Linked DNA regions of Homo sapiens: all the other regions are linked to region 3. Evidence: fine-mapped expression QTL. A gene starts in region 3. Each other region holds a variant in brackets. All regions are shown on one strand. Distances are between the middles of the regions. Region 1 overlaps PLCB2 (phospholipase C beta 2). Region 2 overlaps KNSTRN (kinetochore localized astrin (SPAG5) binding protein). Region 3 holds the start of DISP2 (dispatched RND transporter family member 2). Region 4 holds the start of CHST14 (carbohydrate sulfotransferase 14).

Evidence for each region. PIP is the estimated chance that this variant, and not a neighbour inherited with it, causes the effect.
Region 1: its variant is the best candidate, but not a certain one, in a credible set for the expression of DISP2 in subcutaneous fat (GTEx, PIP 0.84).
Region 2: its variant is the best candidate, but not a certain one, in a credible set for the expression of DISP2 in transverse colon (GTEx, PIP 0.89).
Region 4: its variant is the best candidate, but not a certain one, in a credible set for the expression of DISP2 in fibroblasts (GTEx, PIP 0.86).

Annotation. Positions count from the first base shown.
Region 1 is chr15:40,296,107-40,301,250 of GRCh38, forward strand. PLCB2 (phospholipase C beta 2) reads right to left here. Exons shown (of 32, transcript NM_004573.3): 8 at 3,022-3,122; 9 at 2,692-2,858; 10 at 2,456-2,602; 11 at 2,117-2,274; 12 at 1,771-1,853; 13 at 1,415-1,499; 14 at 640-802; 15 at 416-528; 16 at 190-286. Among named protein-coding and RNA genes, the nearest start is that of PLCB2, 9.3 kb to the right of the region's middle. The variant CAG/C (reference allele first, on the strand shown) is at 2,867.
Region 2 is chr15:40,387,225-40,392,368 of GRCh38, forward strand. KNSTRN (kinetochore localized astrin (SPAG5) binding protein) reads left to right here. Exons shown (of 9, transcript NM_033286.4): 5 at 2,282-2,387; 6 at 2,612-2,705; 7 at 4,269-4,330; 8 at 4,725-4,799. Among named protein-coding and RNA genes, the nearest start is that of KNSTRN, 7.1 kb to the left of the region's middle. The variant C/T (reference allele first, on the strand shown) is at 2,129.
Region 3 is chr15:40,355,685-40,360,828 of GRCh38, forward strand. DISP2 (dispatched RND transporter family member 2) reads left to right here and starts at 2,535. Exons shown (of 8, transcript NM_033510.3): 1 at 2,535-2,756. The coding sequence starts at 2,638. PHGR1 (proline, histidine and glycine rich 1) reads left to right here. Exons shown (of 4, transcript NM_001145643.2): 4 at 389-750. The coding sequence ends at 619. LOC124903472 (a long non-coding RNA gene) reads right to left here. Exons shown (of 4, transcript XR_007064597.1): 4 at 4,222-5,144. RefSeq lists a silencer at 2,456-2,715.
Region 4 is chr15:40,467,900-40,473,043 of GRCh38, forward strand. BAHD1 (bromo adjacent homology domain containing 1) reads left to right here. Exons shown (of 7, transcript NM_014952.5): 7 at 1-337. It overlaps CHST14 (carbohydrate sulfotransferase 14), which reads left to right and starts at 3,085. Exons shown (of 1, transcript NM_130468.4): 1 at 3,085-5,144. The coding sequence starts at 3,315. The coding sequence ends at 4,445. RefSeq lists enhancers at 2,557-2,666, 3,949-4,852 and silencers at 2,957-3,196, 3,247-3,496. The variant G/GAC (reference allele first, on the strand shown) is at 2,607.

The DNA of each region.
Region 1 (5,144 bases), 60 kb before region 3:
TCACCGACACACTCCAGAGCATTCTGTTTGGTGCCAAGTTCCTCACTAGAGAAACTGGGAGCCACTGCCACTTAAGCAAGCCCTTTGCCTGACTCCGTGGCTGGATATTTATAGGCAGGGCCCCAAGTCCAAGGAAGGGGGAGATCCCCCTTCTTCTTACCCACCCGTAAGTTACTCATGCTAACTTACGGGCAGAGAACTCAAAGGAGACGAACTTGGTGGGCTGGATGTAATTGACTAGGCTGGACATCTCCTCATAAGCCGTCACTTCCAGGCCCGCTGTGCCCTAAGGAGAAGAGGGGAGGGCAAAGAAGAGGAGGATGGTGCAGAGCCCAGGAATGGGGCCCAAGGCCCCCATCCAGGGGGCTTAACGGTGGAGGATGACACAGAGGGGCCTGGGGCTACCCCCACACACCTCATCCGACTGCATCTTCTTAATCTCTTCTTCATCCAGGTTTCCTGACTCCTCCTCCTCTTCCTCTTCCACCTCCTCCTCCTCCAGCTCAGTCCCTTCCTCGCCAGCCCACACTGCCACATACAGCTCTGTCGGCACTGGCTCCTGCATGGCTCCTCCAGGTCCAGCCCCTCTCCTGTTCCAGATGCTCCTAATACCCCCCACCATAGTCCTCCCCGACTCACCTGTGCCCTCACCTGCAGGGGCACTGGGTGGGCTGCTGCCCTCAGCCTCCCCACCAGTATCCTTACTGGAGGAGGTGGGGCCAGAAAACTGGTTCTTCTTGTTCTTGATGAGGATCTTGCCCCTGAGATCCTCAGGGCTGGGCAGGGGGACACCTGGTTTTAGCTATGGAGTGGAGAGCAGGTCAGCACCATCTTCTCACCTTCATGGCATAGCCTGAGCTCCTTATTACCAGGCATGCTCCCTCGGCCTCCCCCACTCCTCTTGACCTGCCTCTCACTACTGCTTATCATCCCCATTCTCACTGAGATAAATCCAGCTTATCCCTTGGAGTAAATGCGGCTCATCTTGTGCTTGTTGTAGCTGTCCCTGAGTATGGGACCCTGGCCCAAGGCCATCTGCACCAGGAGGACCTAACAGGCTACTCTAGGAGCCCTGTCCATCACTTCCTCCAGGAAGCCTTCCCTGATCCCCAAGACCAGATCAGAACTCCCCAGGTGCTCCCATAACAACCACTGGATTGTAATGGCCTGGTTACTTGTCTGTCTCCTCACTAGAGGGTAATACACCTGAGGGCAGTGACTGTGTCTTTGTCACTAGCATACCCTGAAGCCCAGCCCAGTGCCTGACACACGGAAGGTGACAGGATCCCAGACCCGCATCTAACCAAGTGAACCCTAGCATCCTCTGGGAGTGTCTCCCTCCCTAACCTGGTTCTCACCCTGCCCCAGGTTCCCAGGCCCAAGGCTCAAATGTCCCACAGCGAAGCCCACTCACTGGGAACTTTTCCAGGGGCTCTGTGAGCAGCATATCCCCAAAGATCGTCCGGCAATACTCAGCCATCTTAGCCTGCTGGCGGGGTCTGCGGGGAGCAAAAGCGGGGATGGGGTTCAGCCGCTCAGCACCAACCCTATTATGCATCCTTTTGTGCCCTTGATGACCCAGATCAGGGGCCAGGAGGTCAGGGAGGCTGGGACTCGAGCAGGAGAACATGAGGCCTTAGGGTGATTATACTGAGACGTGGGAGAAGCTGTAGGCAATGGTTAGAGGCTGGGGCAGTTGTGGGGAGGACAGTTGCAGACAGGAGACTGGGGGCTGGGTGAGAATGTGGCTGAATGGGCCTGGATACGCACGAGTCCACATGGTTCTCAAACGACAGGATGATGGGATAGGGGGAGGTCTTAAAGGCGCTTTCTGCAATAGCCTCAATTGCTTCCTGGAGGAGAAGGAGACTCCATGAACAGAAGGTCAGCGTTCCGACTGCCTGTCTCGTGATAGCACTTTTCCCCCCTGCCTAGTTTCAATACACACATATAACTGCATGGCCGCCATTGGCCCCCAATCCCTGCTGGTCCCCAATGGTCTGAGGCCTTCCAGCCATTCATCTTCTCTAGCTTCAGCCCTCCAACCCCTCAAAGCTTCTGGCCCAGAGCCCTTCCCTACTGCCACGGCCACCAGCCTCTGTGCCCAGGGTCTCACTTTGAAGAAGATGTCTGTGGTCATGGTGAAGCCATGGGTGATAATGGGCTCCTCGTCAGGGGGTTTCCCCTTCCAGCAGTCTAGCTCCACGCAACGGCAGCCAGAGAGCAGCACCTGGCGGTACATCTCAGCCGAGGAGAGGCCTGAGAACTGGCCGGCTGAGCCAGAGGATGGGGAAGAGGTGAGGGCATCACCCAAAGGCAGCCCAGCTCTCCCCCTACCGCCACTCCATCATGGTCTGTGTTATTCTCAGGGCCAGCAGCATGTGGGCAACCCCTGTGGAGGATGCAGGGAACCCCTGTGAAAGCAGAGGTTGGCACCAATGTTATCAGGGCCCACCTGTCAGGTAGGTGTTGTGGGACGAGTTGATGAAGTAATGATTGAGTGGCTGCGTCATGTCGTGGTGGAGCAGCAGCTTGTCCTGGGCCAGCACGCTGTTCTCTGGCCCACAGAGAAACCAGACCATGCCTTCAGGTGACAGCTGGCCTGGGGGACAGGAGATAGCTGTCAGGCTACAACCCCGCTGCCAAGGCAGGACAGGACCACAGGGGACAAGGGGTTCCCTTAGTCCTCACCCCTCTGTGCATTGATGCCACTGGGCTCATACTTGTCGATGAGGCCCTGCACCTGGTCAGGCCGTGCTGGCGGGAACAGCAGGGAGTTAAGCCGGGAGTCCCGCTGTTTCTGGTTGATGAATTTGGTCAGGTGCTCCTTCGTCATGTAGGGTTTGGCCTTAGCATGGCTTCAAGC[CAG/C]AGAGAAGAGCACAGGTCCATATCCCTTGGGCCTGGAGGCTTAGACAACCCCCTTGTCCAGTGAAGCCTCCTGACTCCCGGCATGGCAGGTGGGAGGAGGGGATTGTTAGCCACCACCCTTTTCCCATGACCAGCACAACCCAAGAAACTCACTAAGAAGTGAAGATCTCATCTATTTCTGGCCGAGGACAGAGGCTCATGAGGAAACTCTTGTAGACAGGTTCTGGGAAGTCCTCAGGATTGATGGCGTCATTCTAGGGGCATAGTAACCTTATTGCCCCTGCCCTCACCTTCTCAGAGCTAAGAACCACAAACTCGGCCCAGCCCTGGTCAAGGGGACCTGGTCAGAAGGCGGGCTCAAGGCAGACAGAAGAACTTCAAGGACACCCAAGCATCCACTTCTCAAGGCCCTGGTTGCTGAGCAGAGAGCATGCTTAGCTGGTTTGCTCTGACCCTGATTTTGTACAGTGGCTATTCCATTGGCTGGGGCAGGATCGGAACTAAGAATAACCAGAATGAGGTAGAAAAGAGGTCAGAAGAAATGATGCTGCTTGCCAGGCTAGTAGGCTATCTTTTTTAAGTGGAGGACAAATATTCAAAAAGAAGCAATTTGAATATAAACATATATGCACCTAACAACAGAACCCCATAATATATAAAACAAAAACTGATAGAATTGAAAGGAGGACAATTCAACAATAATATTTGGAGACACCAAAAGCACCGGGACAAAGAAAGATAAATTAAACGTCATCAAAATTAAAAACTTTTGTGCTTCAAAGGACACCATCAAGAAAGTGAAAAGGTAACCCACAGAATGGGATAAAATATTTGCAAATCAGATATCCGATAAGAGATAAGTCAACAAAAAGACAACCCAGTTGAAAGATGGACAATGGATTTGGACAGGTATTTCTCCAAAGAAGATATATAAGTGACTAATAAACACAGAAAAGGTGCTCAATATAATTTGTAGTTAGAGACATGCAAATCAAAACCACAATGAGATACCACTCCCACTAGGATGGCTAAAACAAAAAACAGACAATCACAAGTGTCAGCGGGATGTGACTAACCTAAAACCCCACACAGCACTTTGGGAGGCCGAGGAGGGTGGATCACCTGAGGTCAGGAGTTCGAGACCAGCCTGGCCAACATGGTGAAACCCCATCTCTACTAAAAATACAAAAATTAGCCCAGCATGGTGGCACATGCTTGTAATCCCAGCTACTTGGGAGGCTGAGGCAGGAGAATTGCTTGAACCTGGGAGGCAGAGGTTGCAGTGAACTGAGATCACGCCACTGCACTCCAGCCCGGGCAACAGAGTGAGACTCTGTCTCAAAAATAAATAAATAAATCCCTACACAATGCTCTCACTTTAGAAAACAGTTTGGCGGTTTCTCAAATTGTTAAATATAGAGTGACCACATGACCCAACAATTCCACCCCTGGGTATATACCCAAGAGAATTTACACATGTTCACACAAAATCATGTACATGAATATTCATAACCAAAAAGTACAAAAAACCCAAACATCTACCAACTGATAAACAGATGAACAAAATGTGGTATATCCATACAATGGAATATTATTAGGTGGTAAAAAGGAATGAAGTACTCATGCATGCTACAACATGGATAAACCTTGAAAACATTATGAGAAATGAATACAGCCTGACATCGAAAAGCATATATTTATGATTTCATTTACTTTACCACCAGAATAGGCAAATCTATAGAAATAGAAATGAAAAGTACATTTGTGGTATTCAGGGATTCTGCACCTTTGCATTCCTTCCCCCCCCAAAAAAAACATTAAATGTCTTTCAGAATCACACTGGAAGGCCAACATCAGTCTTAGTTTGGAGCAGAGGGTCTGAGCAGGAGAGTCTAACTGGATCTCCCCAAACCCCTCCCTGTCTCTGGAGCTTCAGCTCCAAGCAAAGTTGGGTCAGTAGCCTCTACTGAGACACAAGGAAAGCAGATAGATAAGGAGGACTTAGCCAAGGGAGGAGCTCAGGCAGCAGGAGAGAGGGAGGGTGGATGTGTGCTGACCACAGGTAAGTGTTGCTGGCTGTAGGGGAGCCGCAGGAGCCCATTCCTACCTCTCCCCAACGCCACATTTGGATCCCTGTGACTGACTGCATCAAGGAGTCACCAACTCTGCAGAGCTGTGGCTGTGGGGTAAATGCTCCTCCTGGGATTCATGTGGGCAGGTGATCAATGGGGGTCGTGGTTTTATTTATTTATAACGTTCCAAATTCTTACCAGGAG
Region 2 (5,144 bases), 32 kb after region 3:
CAACTTGGCCACTATTCTAGGGTAGTGGATCTCAATCCTTGGTTCTGCATCAGAATCATTTGTGGGACTTGTTTACTGTGTTAGGGTCTGGGTTCCACCTCAGGAACCTGAGTGGAATTTTCAGGGGTGAGGCACAGCTAGGTGTAAGAACCATTGTCAGTGCAAGAATCACTGGTGCTACTATCTTGTGTCTCAAGCAAGAGCTTTTTGGACTCCACGCCAGGACCACTGCTGATTGGAAATCACACTTAGCTATGGCCCATCAACAGGAGGGTAAAGCCTTCAGGAGAGGAAGGGCTGGGTGTATGTAGTTAGTGATCTCGAGATGAAGATTCTGGTGGTGGTGGTGGTGAAAACCTGGAGAAGGATTCATGTCTCATCTTTGAGGCTAGTTTGGAAGTTTTGCACTATCAGAAATAGAAATAATAAGCTGAAAAGTCTGTACAAATAGGTTTTAGTTCCAGATCTATTATTTGGGCATATCTTAAAAGTTTTGAAGACAGCAGGGCACACCAGCTCACACCTGTAATCGCAACACTTTGGGAGGCCAAGGTGGGTGGATCACCTGAGGTCAGGAGTTCGAGTCTAGCCTGGGAAACATGATGGGACCCCATCTCTACTAAAAATACAAAAATTAGCCAGGCATGGTGGCGCATGTCTGTAATCCCAGCTACTCAGGAGGCTGAGGCAGGAGGATCACTTCATCCCGGGAGGCAGAGATTGCAGTGAGCCAAGATCACGTCATTGCATTCCAGCCTGGGTGACAGAGCAAGACTCTGACTTACAAAAATAAAAAAGTTTTGAAGACAAAATACTAGCAAAAAAGACTGAGAACTTTAAGAAAAAACTCTAATATTGGTTGCTGAGACCAGCTTGGTCGGGGAGACCCTAACCCAGCGGCGCTAGAGGAATTAAAGACACACACACAGAAATATAGAGGTGTGAAGTGGGAAATCAGGGGTCTCACAGCCTTCAGAGCTGAGAGCCCCGAACAGAGATTTGCCCACGTATTTATTAACAGCAAACCAGTCATTAGCATTGTTTCTATAGATAGTAAATTAACTAAAAGTATCCCTTATGGGAAATGGATGGGCTGAATTAAAGGAATAGGTTGGGCTAGTTAACTGCAGCAGGAACACGCTCTTAAGACACAGATTGCTCATGCTATTGTTTGTGGCTTAAGAATGCCTTTAAGGGCCGGCGCAGTGGCTCACGCCTGTAATCCCAGGATTTTGGGAGGCCGAGGCGGGTGGATCTCAAGGTCAGGAGACCATCCTGGTTAACTATGGTGTTTCACCGTCTCTACTAAAAATACAAAAAATTAGCCAGGCATGGTGGCGGGTGCCTGTAGTCCCAGCTACTCGGGAGGCTGGGGCAGGAGAATGGTGTGAACCCAGGAGGTGGAGCTTGCAGTGAGCCGAGACCACGCCACTGCACTCCAGCCTGGGCGACGGAGCGAGACTCCATCTCAAAAAAAAAAAAAAATGCCTTTAAGTGGTTTTCCGCCCTTGGCAGGCCAGGTGTTCCTAGCCCTCATTCCCGTAAACCCACAACCTTCCAGCATGGGCATTAGGGCCTTTATGAACATGTTACAGTGCTGCAGAGATTTTGTTTATGGCCAGTTTTGGGGCCAGTTTATGGCCAGATTTGGGGGGCCTGCTCCCAACAATTGGTGATATTAGAGTTTATTAGATGATAAACTAACATTAGATAATAGCCCAGCTACTGGGCTAAGAAATGCACACGTGTTTTCTCTCTTATTACTCATAATAATAATACTATGAGATGTGGGTATTGTCCTGATTTCAAAAATGAGGAAACAAGGCCTCAGGGAGGTTATGCAACTCACTGAAGGTCATATACCACTGTGTAATAGCCAGGATAGAATGGGACGTGTTTGTGTAACTCTGTAGGCCGTATTTTTCTTTCTTTTTTTTTTAGACGGAGTTTTGCTCTTGTTGCCACCCAGGCTGGAGTGCAATGGCGCAATCTCAGCTCACCACAACCTCCGCCTCCTGGGTTCAAGCGATTATCCTGCCTCAGCCTCCCAAATACCTGGGATTACAGGCATGCGCCACCACGCCTGACTAATCTTTTGTAATTTTAGTAGAGACAGGGTTTCTCTTAT[C/T]TTGGTCAGGCTGGTCTTGATTTCCCGACCTCAGGTGATCTGCCTGCCTCAGCCTCCCAAAGTGCTGGGATTACAGGCATGAGCTACCGCACCTGGTGTGGGCCATACTGTTAACCCTTTTATCTTTTCATGTAAGTACAACTATTATTACAGCTACAAACCACTGAGTAAGCAAAAATCAGAGGAAGAGCTCAAGGACAAGAACCAGCTGTTAGAAGCCGTCAACAAGCAGTTGCACCAGAAGTTGACTGAAACTCAGGTAAGAGACCCACCAGAGCTCTGTTACCAGCTGCCACTGGGCGATCCACATGGAATCCTGATGGGTGGCCCCTTGGATGAGCAAGCTTGTTAATGCACAGATGCCCAAGGGCAGAAAAAAAAAGCCAGGCTTTTGCTATGGCTGTCCAAGAGCAAGGGCAAGAAAGGGCAACCACCCCTAGGGAGTTGGACAATTCCTGATCTGTCTGTGCTGTGCTCCAATAGGGAGAGCTGAAGGACCTGACCCAGAAGGTAGAGCTGCTGGAGAAGTTTCGGGACAACTGTTTGGCAATTTTGGAGAGCAAGGGCCTTGATCCAGGTAAGAGACAGCACACAGCTAGCCTCCTTTGAAGGAATTGGTGCATGTGCCCCTTCCGGGGTTGATCTTGGCAGCATGGCATCAGCTGGCCCAGTATGTGCAGGGGTTACTTTCATAAAGCCCTAAAGATTTTGGAAAGCTTCTGTTTGTTTTCATGTGATGTTGATTTTTGCCTGGCCAATAGGATTTCAGATGATTATAGAGAGAGGGTTATCTCTTTCTTACCTGAACACTTTATGCCATTCATTTAGTGCCAACAGGTATGACCTTGCAAATAGATGAGAAACACTTTGTTCCTTTCAAGGGAGAACATTTTCTGTCTCTTCCTATTTGGGAAAGTTACTAGTGTGCTTGAAAGGAACATTTTGTTTGAACATGCTCTTCCTTTCAAGCATACTAGTAATCCCAAATGGGAAGAGAAAGAAAATACTATTTCAAGCATTCTTAAACCTGGTTAATCATCAGAATTACAGTGACTAAAATATGACTACTATTCTGACCCTGTCCCCCAGAAAGCAGTATCTGTAGCAAAGAGAGCAGAAGAAGGAATTGCCCAAAGACTGTAAGAGGGCCTCAGACTGAGTCAAAGAGCCAGAGAATGCCCAGGAAAGGGGCCCAGGCCTTTTTGTATTAAGGAATACTGACTTTGAATGTTACTGGTTAATCTTTAGGTTACAGTTGAGGATATTCTTTTTTTTTTTTTGAGATGAAGTCTCATTCCATTGCCCAAGCTGAAGTGCAGAGGTGTGATTTCGGCTCACTGAAACCTCCTCCTCCTGGGTTCAAGTGATTCTCCTGCCTCAGCCTCCTGAGTAGCTGGGATTACAGGCGTGTACCACCACACCCAGCTAATTTTTGTATTTTTAGTAGAGATGGGGTTTTGCCATGTTGGTCAGGCTGGTCTCAAACTCCTGACCTCAAGTGATCTGCCTGTCTCGGCCTCCCAGAGTGCTGGGTTTACAGACATGAGTTACCATGCCCAGCCTAGGATATTCTTTATAGTCACCATAAATATATATGTTTTTAAATTTAAAATTGTTTATTTTTTTGAGATGGGATCTCGCTATGTTGCCCAGGCTGGCCTCCAACTCCTGGGCTCAAGCAATCCTCCCAAATAGCTGGGACTACAGGTGTGCACCACCACATCCGACACCATAAATATTTTGTATGATTTTAGTTTATTACATGCATGTGATATTACCGAAAGTAATAATTTTTTAAGGCCTGAAAGGCTCTTAAAAATAGCTTTGTGAATTGTGAACAAAACCAAAAAAAATCCAACCTATACATTTCCTTTGGACAAATTGTCCACTGACCTAAGGAGAAAGTATACCGAATTTTTGGCCATATCAAAACCTAGATTGAAAGGAGATAAAATACAGTTTTGCAGGGCAGATATGGGTGACCCTGCCAAGGTGAAAACTTAGGAGAAAGTCCAGGATGAGACACTTAAGAGAAATTCCCCTCATGAATATTTCTGTACTTGTCCACGGAGGGTTTTTATTTTCTTTTGTTTAGGGTGTGTAGTTCCCTAAGTGAGATTGACTTTGTTGTATCCATCAGCTTTAGGCAGTGAGACCCTGGCATCACGACAAGAATCCACTACTGATCACATGGACTCTATGGTGAGGGCATGGGTGTGAAAGGGCGCAAGGGCTGAGTGACTGTGGGGCTCTGTAAATCTAAGAAGGTCTCTGCTATATATTCCATAAACTCCAAGAAACAGCCTTTGATTATCTGTGATGCTAGAAAAGAGAAATGGGATGTGTACTCAAAATAGCATATTTTACTTGAAAGGTAGCTTTGTGCTTACAAATATAAGTGAGTCTGAATTGAAAATTTAAAACACATAATAGGTAAACCTGTAGAGAGAGCTTTCTCGTTCTTCTGTTCTATACTTTATCAAATTTCTCTCCTGACTCCTTTGTTGAGAACTGTGTGGAAAGGATGTTAGCCATCATCTAATGCAAGTCTGGTTTTATATGAAGATTTGTTTACTACATTGTGCTTTCCTCTTAGTTGCTGTTAGAAACTTTGCAAGAGGAGCTGAAGCTTTTTAACGAAACAGCCAAAAAGCAGATGGAGGAGTTACAGGTGAGAGGCAGACATCACCCTGACCATTTCCTACCATGATAGGTAGATTTATAGTGGGGTCTTTTCTGTTTTTCTATTTATTTTTAATAAACTTTCTAAATAATTTTAGATTTATAGGAAAGTTACAAAGATAATACAGAAAATTTACCCTGATAGTAACGTGTTTTTTTTTTTCCAACTTTTAAGTTCAGGGGTACACGTACAGGGTGTGTAGGCTTGTTACACAGGTAAACGTGTGCCATGGTGGTTAGCTGCACAGATCATCCCATCACCTAGGTATTGAGCCCAGCATCCATTAGCTATTCTTCTTGATGCACTTCCTCCTCCACCCCCAATAGTAACATC
Region 3 (5,144 bases):
CTAAGTACAATGAGCCTGCAGTTCCTAGCATGGCAAAGCCTCTAATCACTCTGCAAGGGTTCCTGGGTGAGAGAAAGGAGAAGATGAAATAATTCTGCTTCTTAGTTGCAAATAAAATAAATCGAGGTACAGGGAGCGGGAGTCATATCTTGGCTCAAAGAATAGAAACCAATAAATCTAGGTTGCTTGCCTTTTATCTGCTCAGTGTTCTGGCCTCACCAAGGCAAAAGGCACGGGACATGCTACCCATGCCCCCAGCCCTCCACCGCAACTCCTTACTTGCCTAGAAATCCTGAGTCCCCCAGGGAAGTGGAGTGAGGGAGAGCTGATCTCAGGTAAGCTTAGCCCTGACCTCTGACTCTGACATTGTTCATTTGACTTTCCACAGGGGCACTGCCACTGTGGGGGGCATGGCCATCCTCCAGGTCACTGCGGGCCACCCCCTGGCCATGGCCCAGGGCCCTGCGGGCCACCCCCCCACCATGGTCCAGGGCCCTGCGGGCCACCCCCTGGCCATGGCCCAGGGCCCTGCGGGCCACCCCCCCACCATGGTCCAGGGCCCTGCGGGCCTCCCCCTGGCCATGGCCCAGGTCACCCACCCCCTGGTCCACATCACTGAGGAAGTAGAAGAAAACAGGACACAAGATGGCAAGCCTGAGAGAATTGCCCAGCTGACCTGGAATGAGGCCTAAACCACAATCTTCTCTTCCTAATAAACAGCCTCCTAGAGGCCACATTCTATTCTTTAAAGAGCCTGTCTTCCTTCATATCCAACCTGGCTGTCAGAGGACCCAGTTGTCTCCAAGCTCCCTAGTTGTGAAGATGGGGCAACCATCCTGGCATTCTCAGAAGCTTAATGCCATGGTGCTCACTATAAATGGCTGTGTAAGGTCACCTCTCCTTTCCTTTTCACTCCTGTGCCCTCCCATCGAGGAACTTCAAGTGTGGCCTCATTACCTCTATGCCATCCTGTACATCCAGATCTGGTGGGCCTTCCAAGGTTGCAGCTTGCATGCCTCACTCTACAGACCAGAAGCCTCCCTCCAATCCAGATGGTTTCTCACCATTCCCTTAAAATACACTGAACTTTCCAGCCCCCTTACCTTTGTTTGCACAGGTAAGGAAGAATGCCCCCACCCCAGGTCAGGAAGGCCTTCCCTCTCTCCTACCTCCACATTTCAAAGCCCACCCTTTCTTCCAAGCCAGCTGAAGCCCCACCATCTCCAAGAAGCCTTCTCTAAGGCCTATTAGGAAGAAAGAGGTCCTTCCTTTTTGCATACTGTCCCCTTCTCAACCACCTCATGGGCCTCACCATATCTTGCCTATTGGCAGCAATTTATGGGCTGGCCCTTTATCTCTCCAACCAAACTATAAGCTATTCAGGGCAGACCCAACACTTCTACACCTCTAGATTCTTCCACCCCATTTCTTATGACCTGTGTCTTACACGGACTGGCATTGGCACACATTTTAGGGATACCTATAGTCCAAGTGTTCCTGACTCTCTCCTCAGCCCCATGTCTTCAACCAAGGCCTCTCCCTGCACAAGTAACCAGGCCCTGAACAGCCTGCTTGCTGTAAAACCCTTTCTGCCTAGTCAAATCCCACATCCAGGATCCTCTCCACTCCCAGCCCCCCAGGCTTCTCACACTGCCAATATCTATTCTAGTTCTAGACCCCTTAGCCAGGCCTGTCCACAGTCCATCATACCCAAATGTGCTCTACTCACAGCTACTCCCTGGTGGGGGAGGTGGCACTGGAGTCAGTGGCTATTGGGCACCTCCCAGTGCCCTGGAGTCAGTGGCTATTGGGCACCTCCCAGGCTGAGGTGGGGTGGGGGGGCAGCGGTGACTATAAAAAAGGATCTGGGATCACTCAATATACCCTTATAACAAACCTGCACATGTGCCCCTGAATCAAAAATTAACCTTAGCTTACTGTGATTTGTTTGCTTTATAAACCTTTTAAATTTTAAAAAAGAAAGAGAAGGAGCTGGGGATGATCTGAGCGCCTCTCTTCTTCCCCCACCTCCTTCACCAGACTGCGCACTTGAGTAACGGAGTCAGGGCTCCGCATCTAAGGGGTGCACACCCAGGTCCAAGTCGAAGTCCAGAAGGATGGGAAGAAAGACCCAACCTGATGCCTCGCCCCACTGGGGAGGGGAGGAGGGCGCTGAGCGAGCCGGGAACCTCGCAGGCCTGAAGCCGCCCGCCTCGACCCGGGGCGTCCAGCGTGGTGAAGTGCGGGCGTGGAGCTCGCCCTCTATCCGGCTGGAAGGGTCTGCGTTTTGATTTGTGAGGATCTCTGCATGTGTCGCGCTCTCTGGTTCCTTACGGGAAGGCCGAGGCCGCTAGGAAGGGTTGCACGGCCGGACTCCTAACAGCGGCTCTCTGGCCTGGCGGGAGCAGAGGGGCGCTCACATCCGCAGCCCCGGGATCTTAGAGACAGAGCGCTCCGCTCCGGCAGCGGCGCCGCGCCCATTGGCTGGGCTCCTCCTCGCCCCGCCCAGCGACCGGCCCGCTCAGAGCCTACGCATGCGCACGAGCACCCCGCCGCCGCTGCCGCCGCCACCGCCGCCGCCGCCGCCGCCGCCGCGGCTTCAGCACCAGCGCCCGGACAGCGGTGCCGCCCACGGGCATGGACGGTGACAGCAGCAGCAGCAGCGGCGGCAGCGGTCCGGCTCCCGGCCCGGGTCCGGAAGGGGAGCAACGGCCCGAGGGGGAGCCCTTGGCCCCAGACGGCGGCTCCCCGGACAGGTAGGGCGGACAGCTCCGCAGATCCGTATCACAGACCCTCCCAGACCCTCCCCGCCCCAGGTATCCCCAGTAGCCGCCATATGTTGCCCCATTCATTCCCCAGACCCTCCCGGAGCCCCTTCCCGGGGTCGCCAAGCTCCAGGCCCCCCTCGCCACGCCCTCATCCTGCCGGGTCAATTTCCTCGCTCCCTGACACCCCCTAGTGTCAGCCCCCATCGCCCTCCCCGCTTAGGGAACCTGCCCCACCCACGGCTCCTACCCCTCCTCTCAGGCCAGGACTCCCTGGCTCCTCCGGCCCCTCCTTCTAGGCCCTGCCCCTGCGTCTTCTCCGGAAGCCCCAAGCCCGCAGTAACCTCAGTCCGGGTTTCAGCGTGCCAGTGTGCATGAAGGTGTGCGTGAATCGCGGATGGGAGGCTCGCCAAGGCGGGTGTCCTGGGGAAGGCAGACATTCGGCAGGCACGTCAGGGACTGTCTTTGTCACCATCAGTCGCTTGCCTGCCCTGCATGACCCCCAGCTGTGCACGTGTGGGTTCCAGTCCCTGCATGTGGCAGCCACACTGGCTGGAGCCGCTAAGATGGGAAGGATTTGGTGCTCAGGCTGCTGGCCTGTACCACCCCTGGAGGAGCCCCATACTGGTGGGACAGGAGGGACACCTTCCTGCTGAGGGCCCAGATCTCAGCACCTCTCTTCTCCCTTCCTCCACCATATGTGTGAGGGAACAGCCCAGCTAGGTAGCAATATGGCGCAATTTCTGTGCCCTGCCTGGCTCTGCCGCCCCCAGAATCCCTCCTCTGACATGACACTGCCTCTTTCCTGCCTGGACTGAAATAAAAGGCATTCCTTGATAGCAATAGCAGAAGTGGACACATCGTCTCCAGAATACCCCAGTTAAAATGTACATTCTGTACCCCAGAGGGGGAGAAAGCCCCACAAGTAGAGAGAAATGCTTTCTTCCCTTTATTGTTAACACATTAGCCTGGATAGATTTAGCCACTCTTCAGTCTGAAAGTCACAAAGCCTTCAAGAAGGTGAGACACAGGATGGGTGTATTCACCAGTCCAGGGACCTGCCTGGGACTATGGCCTGATCAAAGATGGGGCAGTGACAGGACAGAGCGAGGACCTGGGGCCAGAAGCATCCCTAGAAGGGGCAGGAGAGTCATTTGCTGTCTCAGATATCTTGCCAAGGATCAGCCATGTCCAGTCTCATTTCCCCTGGGCACAGGATCCACTTGCTCTCTTCCAGAAACTCCCTGGGGCCTCTGGCCCCTCTCTGGACTTCTCCAGAGACCATAGACACTAATTGGGCATAGGGACTTGCTTATGTGATTCAAGAAACACAAAAATGCTCCTGCTGACCTGAGTAGCACTCTGGGGATAGATACACAGTGAATAACTCACACACACAACATGCGCATGTGCACACACACTGGCTAGAGAGGAATTTGAAATAGTTCACACTTTGTGTTTTTAAAATTACCTTTTTATTTTCCTAGTGATATGAGCTGCTTCCCCATCTGTCCTGGCCACTCTGTGGGATCACACTGATGTTCACCTGGCTGTGTGTCTGTGGGCTTGGGGGTATAGTTAATGCGATATACATTTGCCCCTTATGGGGCTTCCAGGTTTGGTCTCTGTGTCTAGGAGCCTGTCAGCCAGGCCCTGATTGCTGGGATGCTGGCCTCTTAAATGAGGCCTGCATCCCCACTTTCCATCCCCCTGCCTGCCCTACTCACTTGGCGTACAGGCCTGCAGGCCCGGGCAGGCAACCCTGGAAGTTACTCATCCCAGTGAGGGCCATGGAACTGAGGGAGTGAGAATAAAAAACCCCTGTGTAGCCCTGGGGTGCTTAACTCCTATTTTACTGAGCCTCCTGAGATCAGAGGGCAGCAGGAGGTGACAAGAGAAAGCTTTTATTCTGAGAAGAGTGGAGGTCGGTTTTTCTCATGGGAGTTTTGAAGAAAAGGCCTGGCTCTACAGCAGTCAGAATATGGAAGGTTTCAAATTCTGCCACATTGATAATGGTGGGCACAGTCAGGAAGGGTGAGATTGGGGGCAGCTGATCCTAGGTCCCTGAAGAGGAATAGTAGGAGTTAAAGGGAAGGAGCTGGGGCCAGGGAGACTCCAGCAGAAGCAAACCAGTGGTGGAGGCTAAGATCCCCCTTGAACAAGAGCCAGCTAAGGAAAAGGGTGGACTTGGGAGGTTTTAGAAAACTGGGTAACCAAGAGTGCACCCACTCTTCTCCCGTATCCTCTGGAATGCTGGCTTCCCCTAATGCAAAAGAAACCAACACTCCAAGTGGGGCCCTGGCTCCTAAGACAAGCCCAGTGATCAGTTATCTAAGGCCATGGGCAGCTGGAACAGGCCCCCCACCTCCACCCAGGCTG
Region 4 (5,144 bases), 110 kb after region 3:
CTAGCAGGAAAGGAGATGAAGGCCCTCCTCCCAGGAGGTAGGGTCTTGGCTGCCCCGAACTTAAATGCTTTTGAAATCTCTTAGATGTGGAAATATTTTTTCGAACCTGAAAATGCAGCTGGTAGAATTTCAATGGAAGCATAATCCATGTAAAATATATTTTAGTTGATATTTTGTAAAATGCACTTTTTGTGTGTGTTGATCCTGGTTTCCCAGATCTGTATTTCAGTGTTTACAAGGGAGGAAGGACCTTTCCTCACCTCCCTTTTGACAGAGATTAGAAGTACTTCTTTAAGAAAAAAATAAATTTGAGAAATTGTATTGATTTAGAAAAGGATCGTTTCCTGTGTGTCCTGTCATCTTTTGGTGTGTGGGTGTGGAGAGACCCACTATTCTTATTTCAGAGGTCCCTCTTAACCCCTGTGGCATGGATGCTCACCAAGGCCAATGAGCAAAGAGGGCAGGGAAGCAGAGGGAAAAGAGAGTGAGGGAAGGAGACAGAGGGACTGGGAACTTGGAGTTGACTTCTTGATTTCATGGTGGCCACAGCTGCCTGCTTAGGTCTGTGTGAAATACTTCAGTTGCCAGCCCTCACCTGACCAGTGACCTGGAAATTGGTCCCCAAGTAGGTACATGGCAAAGATACCTTCTTATCACTGGCCTCATGCAGTGGCTCCTGCCTGTAATCCCAGTGCTTTGGGAGGCAGAGGCAGGAGGGTTACTTGAGCCTAGGAGTTTAAGACCAGCCTAGGCAACATAGACCATGTCTCTCGAAAAATTTAAAAATTAGCCCGGCATGTCAGTGCATGCCTATAGTCTCAGTCAGGAGGCTAAGGTAGGAGGATTGCTTGATCCCAAGAGCACGAGGCTGCAGTGAGCCGTGATCATACCACTGCAGCCTGGGTGACAGAGTGAGATCCTGTCTCAGAAAAGAAAAAAAAAGCATCCCTCCTCATCACCTTGGGTAACTGGCCAGCACTGTCCTAGGGCCTCAGTGTCTTGCAGCTGGTGCTTCTTGCTTGCTGAGGAAGGCCACATCATGGGGCCAAGGGTCTGCGGCCAGCTGACCCCTGCTTCAGCCCAGCCCTGGTCCCAGCCTGGAAGCCTCAGTGTTGACCATGTTCCAGGTGGGGCAGCTCTAAGGCCATAGAGGTTCCTGGGAGCCACAGCACCCCCCCGCCCCGCCTCCACTTCTGCATTTTGCTAAGGCATGGTGCATGTGGGCAGGAACATTTTTTCAGAATTTATTGGTGGCACAGACACCACCATGGATTTTTCTAGCTCTGCCTTCAGTGTGGTGTCCACAAGACTCCCTTGAGGCGAGTGGTAGCTTGTCCTTATCTTACAGACAAGAAATTGGTATGGAGATAAGTACCAGGCCCAAGGACTCCCCCTGCCTCACCCTGACTGCTAACACAGAAAACTACCCTGTAACACAGAAGGGAGCACATGTGGCCACATTATCAAAAGATTTTTAAAGGTCTAAGGCCTTTTTTTCCTCTCCTGGTTTAAAGGACATACTTACTGGAAAATATGATTTTAATAGAAAATCCTATCACCAGAAATGTATACCTTTAGGATTATTGGAAGCAAGGAGCAGTGTAGACAAGGCAGAACCTTCACGCAAACTTCTGGTGCAGCAAATGGACAGGTGGTAGCCTGCAGATGCACTGGGGCAATCAGATGTGGAGAGCCTGCCCTGGAGAGCTGGAAGGCTGCAAGGCTTTACCGTTCCTTCCCCTGGCTCATCTGTGTGCTTTTCCTGTTGCTGGGATTGTGGGGTCATCAGTGAGCCCTCTAGTATCACCTCATCCCTCAAGTCCCCTCACCCTTCTGAATTCATCTGATCACTGGTAGCTCCATTCTCCCACTGGTATCTTCTATTTTCCATCACCTGCTCTGTACAGTCCGCCCTCGAGTCAGCTGCTTCCTCCCTTCTAGCCATTCCATGATATGCTCCTTTAATCTCTGAAGGGCCGTGATTAGAAATTTAGGTTTTAGACTCAGAACCACCCATACTGAGTCACATCTTCCCTGAGCCTCTGTTACTTCAGCTGTACAAAGGGAATGTCCACACTAGCTCCCTGCCAGGGTGGCTGTAACAACTAAAGGAGATAATGAATATAAAACACTTAGTGGGCGCTGTCCTCAGTACACTTGGGCTCTAATCATATTCCTCTGCTGCTTCAGAGGCTTGCTGGCTCTCTGCAGGCAGCAAGCACATAGCTGGACCAAGTCTGGCTACTGAGCCAGGTTCCCAGTGGGAAATGGTGGTTGCTGACATCCAAAGCACTTCGGGTCTGCTGTCCGCCCAAGTGACCAGCCTGGTGCCATGGAGCACACATCTAGCTCCAGGCAAGGAGACTACGTGCTGTTTCCCTGCTGTTTTGTGCCCCCAGCTCCTCACCCTTCCAAATGTGTGTTGGCCACACCAGCAGCTGATGGACCAATGTGTCAGACCCTCCCCAGAGTGCCCAGTTATCCCACTGCCTCATGAGGAGAAGGCAGAGGAGGGGAGACTCCATTTCCAGACATTTCAGCATTACCCAGTGGACAAGCACTGTAGTCAGTCCCCAGGTATTGCTAAACACAAGGGTCACCATGGA[G/GAC]ACTGGTCAGTGTCTGACAGTTCTGCTTCTCCTTCCTGGAGTGGCCACGACCTGCAGGACGGAGGGAGTTAAGGGTGGCAAGGGGGAGCACACCGAGGGCTCCGCTTCCAGCTGGAAAGACCAGCCTCCGGCACGTCTGGACTCGGAGAGAGCGCTGCCCGCCTCCCTGCCTCCAGACCCGTTGCTGGAGGAAGGGCTAGGACAGGCCTGAGTTTGTGGCGAATCCCCCTTGTCCACTTCCCTGAGGACACACGCTGCAGGAGAGCAGCCTCGAGTCTTTTCTGCCTTCGAGGTCTCAGGAGCTTTTGTCCCCAAGCCCAGAGGACAGGGGTGGCCCTGACTCAGGCGCCCTCTTCCGGGTAGGGGTCCGCGTGCGCCCTCCCAAGCCCGCGCCCCGCAGGGGCGCCCGCCCCTCTCCCCGCCCCCGGCGTGGGCCCGCCCCCGCGCCTGTGTCACTGCGAGGCCGGGGGTGGAGAGCGGCCGGGCGGGACATCCGGCCCGGGTCCCTCGCCGCGCCCGCCGCCCGCCGCCCGCTTCGGCGCCGCAGCCCGGGAGCCGGCCACCCCTACACGCGCCAGGGCTGTCCCCTGCCCTCCCCTCCCCAACTACCCCCGGTCCCAGACCCTCCTCCCGCCCCCAGCCCGAGCCCGCCTTCCAGGCCGCCCTCGGATCGGCCGGGCCCGCGCAGGCCCCCACCCCTTGAGCACCATGTTCCCCCGCCCGCTGACCCCGCTGGCGGCCCCAAATGGCGCCGAGCCCCTGGGCCGGGCGCTGAGGCGGGCCCCTCTGGGCAGGGCCCGGGCGGGGCTGGGTGGGCCGCCCCTGCTGCTGCCGTCCATGCTGATGTTTGCGGTGATCGTGGCCTCCAGCGGGCTGCTGCTCATGATCGAGCGGGGCATCCTGGCCGAGATGAAGCCCCTGCCCCTGCACCCGCCCGGCCGCGAGGGCACAGCCTGGCGCGGGAAAGCCCCCAAGCCTGGGGGCCTGTCCCTCAGGGCTGGGGACGCGGACTTGCAAGTGCGGCAGGACGTCCGGAACAGGACCCTGCGGGCGGTGTGCGGACAGCCAGGCATGCCCCGGGACCCCTGGGACTTGCCGGTGGGGCAGCGGCGCACCCTGCTGCGCCACATCCTCGTAAGTGACCGTTACCGCTTCCTCTACTGCTACGTCCCCAAGGTGGCCTGCTCTAACTGGAAGCGGGTGATGAAGGTGCTGGCAGGCGTCCTGGACAGCGTGGACGTCCGCCTCAAGATGGACCACCGCAGTGACCTGGTGTTCCTGGCCGACCTGCGGCCTGAGGAGATTCGCTACCGCCTGCAGCACTACTTTAAGTTCCTGTTTGTGCGGGAGCCCTTGGAACGCCTCCTCTCTGCCTACCGCAACAAGTTTGGCGAGATCCGAGAGTACCAGCAACGCTATGGGGCTGAGATAGTGAGGCGGTACAGGGCTGGAGCGGGGCCCAGCCCTGCAGGCGACGATGTCACATTCCCCGAGTTCCTGAGATACCTGGTGGATGAGGACCCTGAGCGCATGAATGAGCATTGGATGCCCGTGTACCACCTGTGCCAGCCTTGTGCCGTGCACTATGACTTTGTGGGCTCCTATGAGAGGCTGGAGGCTGATGCAAATCAGGTGCTGGAGTGGGTACGGGCACCACCTCACGTCCGATTTCCAGCTCGCCAGGCCTGGTACCGGCCAGCCAGCCCCGAAAGCCTGCATTACCACTTGTGCAGTGCCCCCCGGGCCCTGCTGCAGGATGTGCTGCCTAAGTATATCCTGGACTTCTCCCTCTTTGCCTACCCACTGCCTAATGTCACCAAGGAGGCGTGTCAGCAGTGACCATGGGTGTGGGGCCAGCAGCTGGTGGGGACTGGTTTCAACGCCAGCTTTCTGTGCTTCTGCCTGTCATTCGGAGAAACTCTGGCTCTGGGGCTTGGGGCTTCTCAGGATCCTGGATGGCAGAGACTGCCCTCAGAAGTTCCTTGTCCAGGGTGGGCACCCACAGTGACTCAGAGGACAGGGCTAGGCAGGAGACCTGCTGCTCCTCATTGGGGGGATCTCTTGGGGGGCAGACACCAGTTTGCCAATGAAGCAACACATCTGATCTAAAGACTGGCTCCAGACCCCGGGCTGCCAGGATTATGCAGTCCACTTGGTCTACCTTAATTTAACCTGTGGCCAAACTCAGAGATGGTACCAGCCAGGGGCAAGCATGACCAGAGCCAGGGACCCTGTGGCTCTGATCCCCCATTTATCCACCCCATGTGCCTCAGGACTAGAGTGAGCAATCATACCTTATAAATGACTTTTGTGCCTTTCTGCTCCAGTCTCAAAATTTCCTACACCTGCCAGTTCTTTACATTTTTCCAAGGAAAGGAAAACGGAAGCAGGGTTCTTGCCTGGTAGCTCCAGGACCCAGCTCTGCAGGCACCCAAAGACCCTCTGTGCCCAGCCTCTTCCTTGAGTTCTCGGAACCTCCTCCCTAATTCTCCCTTCCTTCCCCACAAGGCCTTTGAGGTTGTGACTGTGGCTGGTATA